Regions from separate parts of the Homo sapiens genome. Here region 1 is linked to region 2. Evidence: fine-mapped expression QTL. A gene starts in region 2. The other region holds a variant in brackets. All regions are shown on one strand. Distances are between the middles of the regions. Region 1 has its middle 38 kb from the start of RANBP9. Region 2 holds the start of RANBP9 (RAN binding protein 9).

Evidence for each region. PIP is the estimated chance that this variant, and not a neighbour inherited with it, causes the effect. A credible set is the group of variants that fine-mapping cannot tell apart.
Region 1: its variant is the best candidate, but not a certain one, in a credible set for the expression of RANBP9 in whole blood (TOPMed, PIP 0.75).

The regions. Positions count from the first base shown.
Region 1 is chr6:13,748,889-13,751,682 of GRCh38, reverse strand. No RefSeq gene overlaps it. Among named protein-coding and RNA genes, the nearest start is that of RANBP9, 38 kb to the right of the region's middle. The variant G/C (reference allele first, on the strand shown) is at 1,054.
Region 2 is chr6:13,710,731-13,713,524 of GRCh38, reverse strand. RANBP9 (RAN binding protein 9) reads left to right here and starts at 1,690. Exons shown (of 14, transcript NM_005493.3): 1 at 1,690-2,590. The coding sequence starts at 2,020. It overlaps LOC124901264 (a long non-coding RNA gene), which reads left to right and starts at 771. Exons shown (of 2, transcript XR_007059462.1): 1 at 771-842; 2 at 984-1,173. RefSeq lists silencers at 1,186-1,955, 2,116-2,235, 2,316-2,365, 2,626-2,745.

The DNA.
Region 1 (2,794 bases), 38 kb before region 2:
GAAATTGGAGAGGGCAGATAGATGCAGGTAAAATTCCTACAGGTGGACCTGCATTTTCCTGCTCATTTCTGTTGCCCCTGCAACTTGTGAACACTGTTAAGCCCCTCTCTGCACCTTTACACACTCCTGGTCTAACACTGCCACACAGAAACACACCTCCACACACCATCAGCAGTGACTATCGTGAATCTACTTATCTATTTTTACATTTGTATGGTTAATTTGTAGTAAAGATGGATTCAAATAAATCTTTTGCTGATTGACTCCAATTTCATAATGAAGGAAATTAGTTCAGTTGCTCTATCATTCTAGAGAAATTCCCATTTTAGTTCATTAGGATTGTCCTCTCTGAGTTGGTCTAATCCAATTCTCTGCCAAGTGGTTAACCTTACATGAAGAAAATACACGATTTTAACTTCTTCATTTTACACATATATAGTGACATAAACTGGTCAATCTTCCCCACCCATATATCCATGGGAAAACTGGAAAAAATAATTATTAGAAATGGACACCATCATTCTAAAACAACAAAAGGATAAGCCATTTTTGTTTAAAATTTGTGTTTCAATTTTTGTTTAGAGTAGGCCAAGGTAGTAAATTATGCCTGGGAAATATATATACAAATCTTCTCTGGAAAACAGATTTTAAATCCAGGCCTCAACAAATTATAAGAGATAGATTTCCAAGGAATATGAGCTCACAATAAAAATATCTCAGAACATACAAGGAAATAAGCCATCATGCATGAAAGCCAGCAAACCCTGAATGACATTTTTTAATGAAAAAAGTATTGACAATAGATTCAGTGCAATCTCTATCAAAATCTAAGCATATTATTAAAAAGAAGTTGATAAGTTCACGCTAAAATCTCTGTGCAATTGCAAAAGACATAGAAAAGCCAAGACTACTACTTCTTCTTCTTTTTTTTTTTTTTTTGAGATGGAGTTTTGCTCTTCTTGCCCAGGCCGGAGTGCAATGGCATGATCTCGGCTCACCACAACCTCCGCCTCCTGGGTTCAAGCAATTCTCCTGCCTTAGCCTCCCAAGTAG[G/C]TGGGATTACAGGCATGCGCCACCACGCCTGGCTAATTTTGTATTTTTAGTAGAGACGGGGTTTCTCCATGTTGGTCAGGCTGGTCTTGAACTCCCAGCCTCAGATGATCTGCCCACCTTGGCTTCCCAAAGTGCTGGGATTACAGGCGTGAGCCACTGCGCCCGGCCAAGAATTTTTTTTAAAAAGAAGAATGAAGGTGGAGGAATTACACTAACTGAATTCAATACTAACTATAAAGCTACAGTAATTAAGCTAATATAATATTAGTGTAAGAACAGACAAATAGATTAATGGAACAGAGAGTTCAGAAGTAGATCCTCACATATATAGTCAATTGACTTTAGACAGAAGTGCCAAGGTAATTCAATGAGCAAAGGGTATCTTTTCAACAACATGCTGGAAAAACTGGATATCCATATGAAAAAACATGAGCCTTAACTTTTACTTCACACCATATGCAAAAATTAACTTGAAATAATCAAAGACCTACTTCTACAGGCTAAAATTATAACACTGCTATAAGAAAAAATAGGAAAAAATCTTCACAAGTTTGGGTTAGGCAGATTCCTTAGATGGGACACAAAGGCATGAAAAGAAGACATTGAGAAATTGAACTCCATCAAATTTTTAACTTCTAATCTTCATATAAGTCAGAAAGGACTGACAAAGGACTTCTATCCAGAATATATAAACAGCTTTTATAAATAAACAGTAAGAAGACAAAACCCCGAATTTTTTATGGGCAAAAGATATAAACAAATATTTTACAAAAGAAGATATAGAATTGTCCAATAAGTACATGAAAAATGCTTCACATTTTCATTTATCAGAGAAATGCAAATGAAAACTACAAGAAAATACCACTCCACAGCCACCAGAATGGCTAAGATTTTTTAAACTGACAGTTCCAAGTATTGGCCAGGATGAACATTGCTGATAGATGTACAAAACAGCACAACCAATTTGGAAAATAGTTTGGCAGTTTCTTCTAAGGTTACAATAACCGTACGACCCAGAAATTTCACTCCTAGCTGTTTACCCAAGACAAATGAAAACATGTCCACAAGAAGACTTGTACATAAATGCTTATAGCAGCTTTATTTATAATAGTGAAAACAAAACAGAAAATAACCAAAATATCTATTAGCAAGCAAATAGATAATGATGGTGTATCTATATATGTCAACATAATGGAACACTACTCAGCAATAAAAAGGAATAAACTACTGATGTACACAACCTGAATAAATTCAAAACATTGAATATATTTTTGTTTGTTTATTTTATTTATTTATTTATTTATTTTTGAGACAGAGTCTCACTCTGTTGCCCAGGCTGAGGTGCAGTGGCACAATCTCCGCTCATTGCAACCTCTGCCTCCCAGGCTCAAGCAATTCTCCTGCCTCAGTCTCCCATGTAGCTGGGATCACAGTCATGCACCACCACGCCCAGCTAATTTTTGTATTTTTAGTAAAGACGGGGTTTCACCATGTTGGCCAGGCTGATCTCGAACTCCTGACTTCAGGTGATCCGCCTGCCTTGGCCTCCCAAAATGCTGGGATTACAGGTGTGAGCCACCATGCCCAGCCCTCAATATATTTTTATTTCAAAAACATTATGTGAGATCAAAGGAGCAAACACCAAAGAGTATATAATGTATGATCCCATTTATATGAAACTTCAGAAAAGGGGAAAATCATCTATGACAACAGAAAGCAGATTCGAGGTTACCTGGGATCA
Region 2 (2,794 bases):
ATTGTTACTGTAATATAAATGAAAGTGTTAGAACACTGTAAATACAGTGACATCATGTGATTCAAAGTGCAGTGGTTTAAAAAAAGTCATCAAACAACAGGTTAAAATTAATGGATATTTCTATCAAACTACAACAGAGGCCAGGCATGGTGGCTCACGCCTGTAATCCCAGCACTTTGGGAGGCTGAGGCGGGTAGATCACTTGAGGTCGGGAGTTCGAGACCAGCCTGGCCAACATGGTGAAACCCCGTCTCCACTACAAGTACAAAAATTAGCTGGGTGTGAGCACATGCCTGTAGTCCCAGCTACTTGGGAGGCTGAGGCAGGAGAATCGCTTGAACCCGGGAGGCGGAAGTTGTAGTGAGCTGAGACCACACAACTGCACTCCAGCCTGGGCGACAAAACAATAATAATAATAATAATAAAAGTACAACAGAACATCTAGTTGTCTGGGTAACTGAGGGAGAAATTAGGCCGAATGACTCTGTTATTTGTTCTGGCCAGATAATCTTGGCCTTAAATTAAATCACCTTTGGCCTACCTTCTTCAAAACGAAATAATTTTCTCTTCGGCAAAACATTTCTTATTTGACCAAATGATTACCATCATATCTTTGGAAGCAAACAAAATATCAGAATTTACATCACACAATTTACATATGCAAAGCCTGATTTTGCCAGCTAGGGAGGGATAAGCTAAACAAAGGGAAGTGGTGAAAACAAAGTAGTAATGTTATGATGGGTCAGAGAGCAACACTTGGCAAGTTGTGCCAAATTAGTCGACGAAGCATTCTATTGGGAATTGCAAAGTAGGAAGTCCTATTTTTGACTCTGCTGATCTCGGTAAATATTTCCTTGTTTTAAAAATGGGCATAATTTTCTGTTACCTAAGAACCCTGTTATGAAAATTAACGAGTCTATAAAATGTTCTGACGTCTCTAGAAGCCCTTCCTAAACACACACTATAATCTTGTATTCATACAGTGCCTGCTCCTGCTTTTTGAAGATATGCCGGTCTTTATTAATGACATCTTCTACCACTGTTAAGTTCACTGTGAGTCCTCGTAAAATTAATTAATGAAACAGTCACTATTCTAAGTGGGAGACTGCCTTCAGAAGTGGTTTCTACTGCCCATATGGTCAATGCTACGGAATTAAACACTGAAGTACCAAAGGCAATGCGTTCCTCTTTGGAGGGAGGCGGCAAACGGGAACGGGACTGAGGCGAGAGCTAGCAGCACTGCGCGGGGAGCCTGAGCCGCTCCGCACGCCCCGGGCCGACGGGTCCTAGAGCGCCCCGGGGCCTGGGCTCGCGGCGGCCCCAGCGGGGCTCGATTACTCTCGCCTGGACGAGAAGCGGCGCCTCGGCTCCGAGGAGCCCTACGGTGGGGAGGTGGGGCGACGACAACAAAAAGAAGTCAAGTGGGAGGGGATTCGCCGGCGAGGGGGGCGACGGCGGCCGCCAAGGGAGAGGAGGCGGACACCTCCGAAGGGACCTGCGGCGCCGGGAGCCCAGCGATCCTGCCCACGAGCGACTGGCGGGCCCGGGAGGACGCCTCGCGGCGCACAGCCGGGAGCCCCGCGGCCCGCCCCCTCGCACCGCTCGCGCCTCTCTCGCGCCTCCGTCCCGCCCCCTCGCCTAGCGCCGCCCGCGCGCAGCGTCTCGCGCCGGCCCGGCCCGCCCGCCGGGAAACAGCCGCGAGAGCAGCGGCCGCGGCGGCCGCCAGCGCGCCTTCCCCTCCCGCGCTCCCGCGTCGCCCCCGCCCTCGGCGCCTCGTCCCCGGGCCGCGCGCCCGCGCTCCGGCCAACGTTCTCTCCCGGCCTCCCGGGCCCGCCGCCTACTCCCGCGTCTCCGAGCTCCTCAACCGCCGCGGTCTCCCTGGGCGCGCGGCCCGCCGCCTGCTTCCGGGGCGGGCGGACTGGGCGCCTGGTGCCGGCGGCCGCAGCGACAGCGCCCCCGGGAAGCAGAGGAGGAAGGAGAGAAGAGGTGGAGGTGGCCGCAGGCTGAGTCGCGGCCGGGATGTCCGGGCAGCCGCCGCCGCCGCCGCCGCAGCAGCAGCAACAGCAGCAGCAGCTGTCGCCGCCACCGCCGGCGGCCTTGGCCCCAGTCTCCGGAGTCGTCCTGCCGGCGCCCCCGGCCGTCAGCGCCGGCTCTTCTCCGGCCGGCTCGCCCGGCGGCGGTGCGGGCGGCGAAGGCTTAGGGGCCGCGGCGGCCGCCCTGCTCCTCCACCCTCCGCCGCCGCCGCCCCCGGCCACCGCGGCCCCGCCGCCCCCGCCGCCGCCCCCGCCTCCCCCTGCCTCAGCGGCTGCCCCCGCCAGCGGGCCGCCCGCTCCCCCGGGCCTTGCAGCGGGCCCCGGCCCGGCTGGAGGAGCCCCGACCCCAGCTCTGGTGGCGGGCAGCAGCGCCGCGGCCCCCTTCCCTCACGGGGACTCGGCCCTGAACGAGCAGGAGAAGGAGTTGCAGCGGCGGCTGAAGCGTCTCTACCCGGCCGTGGACGAACAAGAGACGCCGCTGCCTCGGTCCTGGAGCCCGAAGGACAAGTTCAGCTACATCGGCCTCTCTCAGAACAACCTGCGGGTGCACTACAAAGGTACTGGGCGTGTGTCCTGCGGTGGGAGTGGGGCACTGACCCGACGTGGCCGGCCGCCGCTGCGCCGCTCTCGACCCGCCCCCGACCCCCGCCCTCGCGGGCTCTGCCCTCGGAGGCCACTCGCCGCCTGTTGTGCTGCTCCGGGTGGGCGCGGGGGTCGCGGTGAAGGGTCCGAGGGTGAGGGGCGAGATTCTTGGAAAAGGA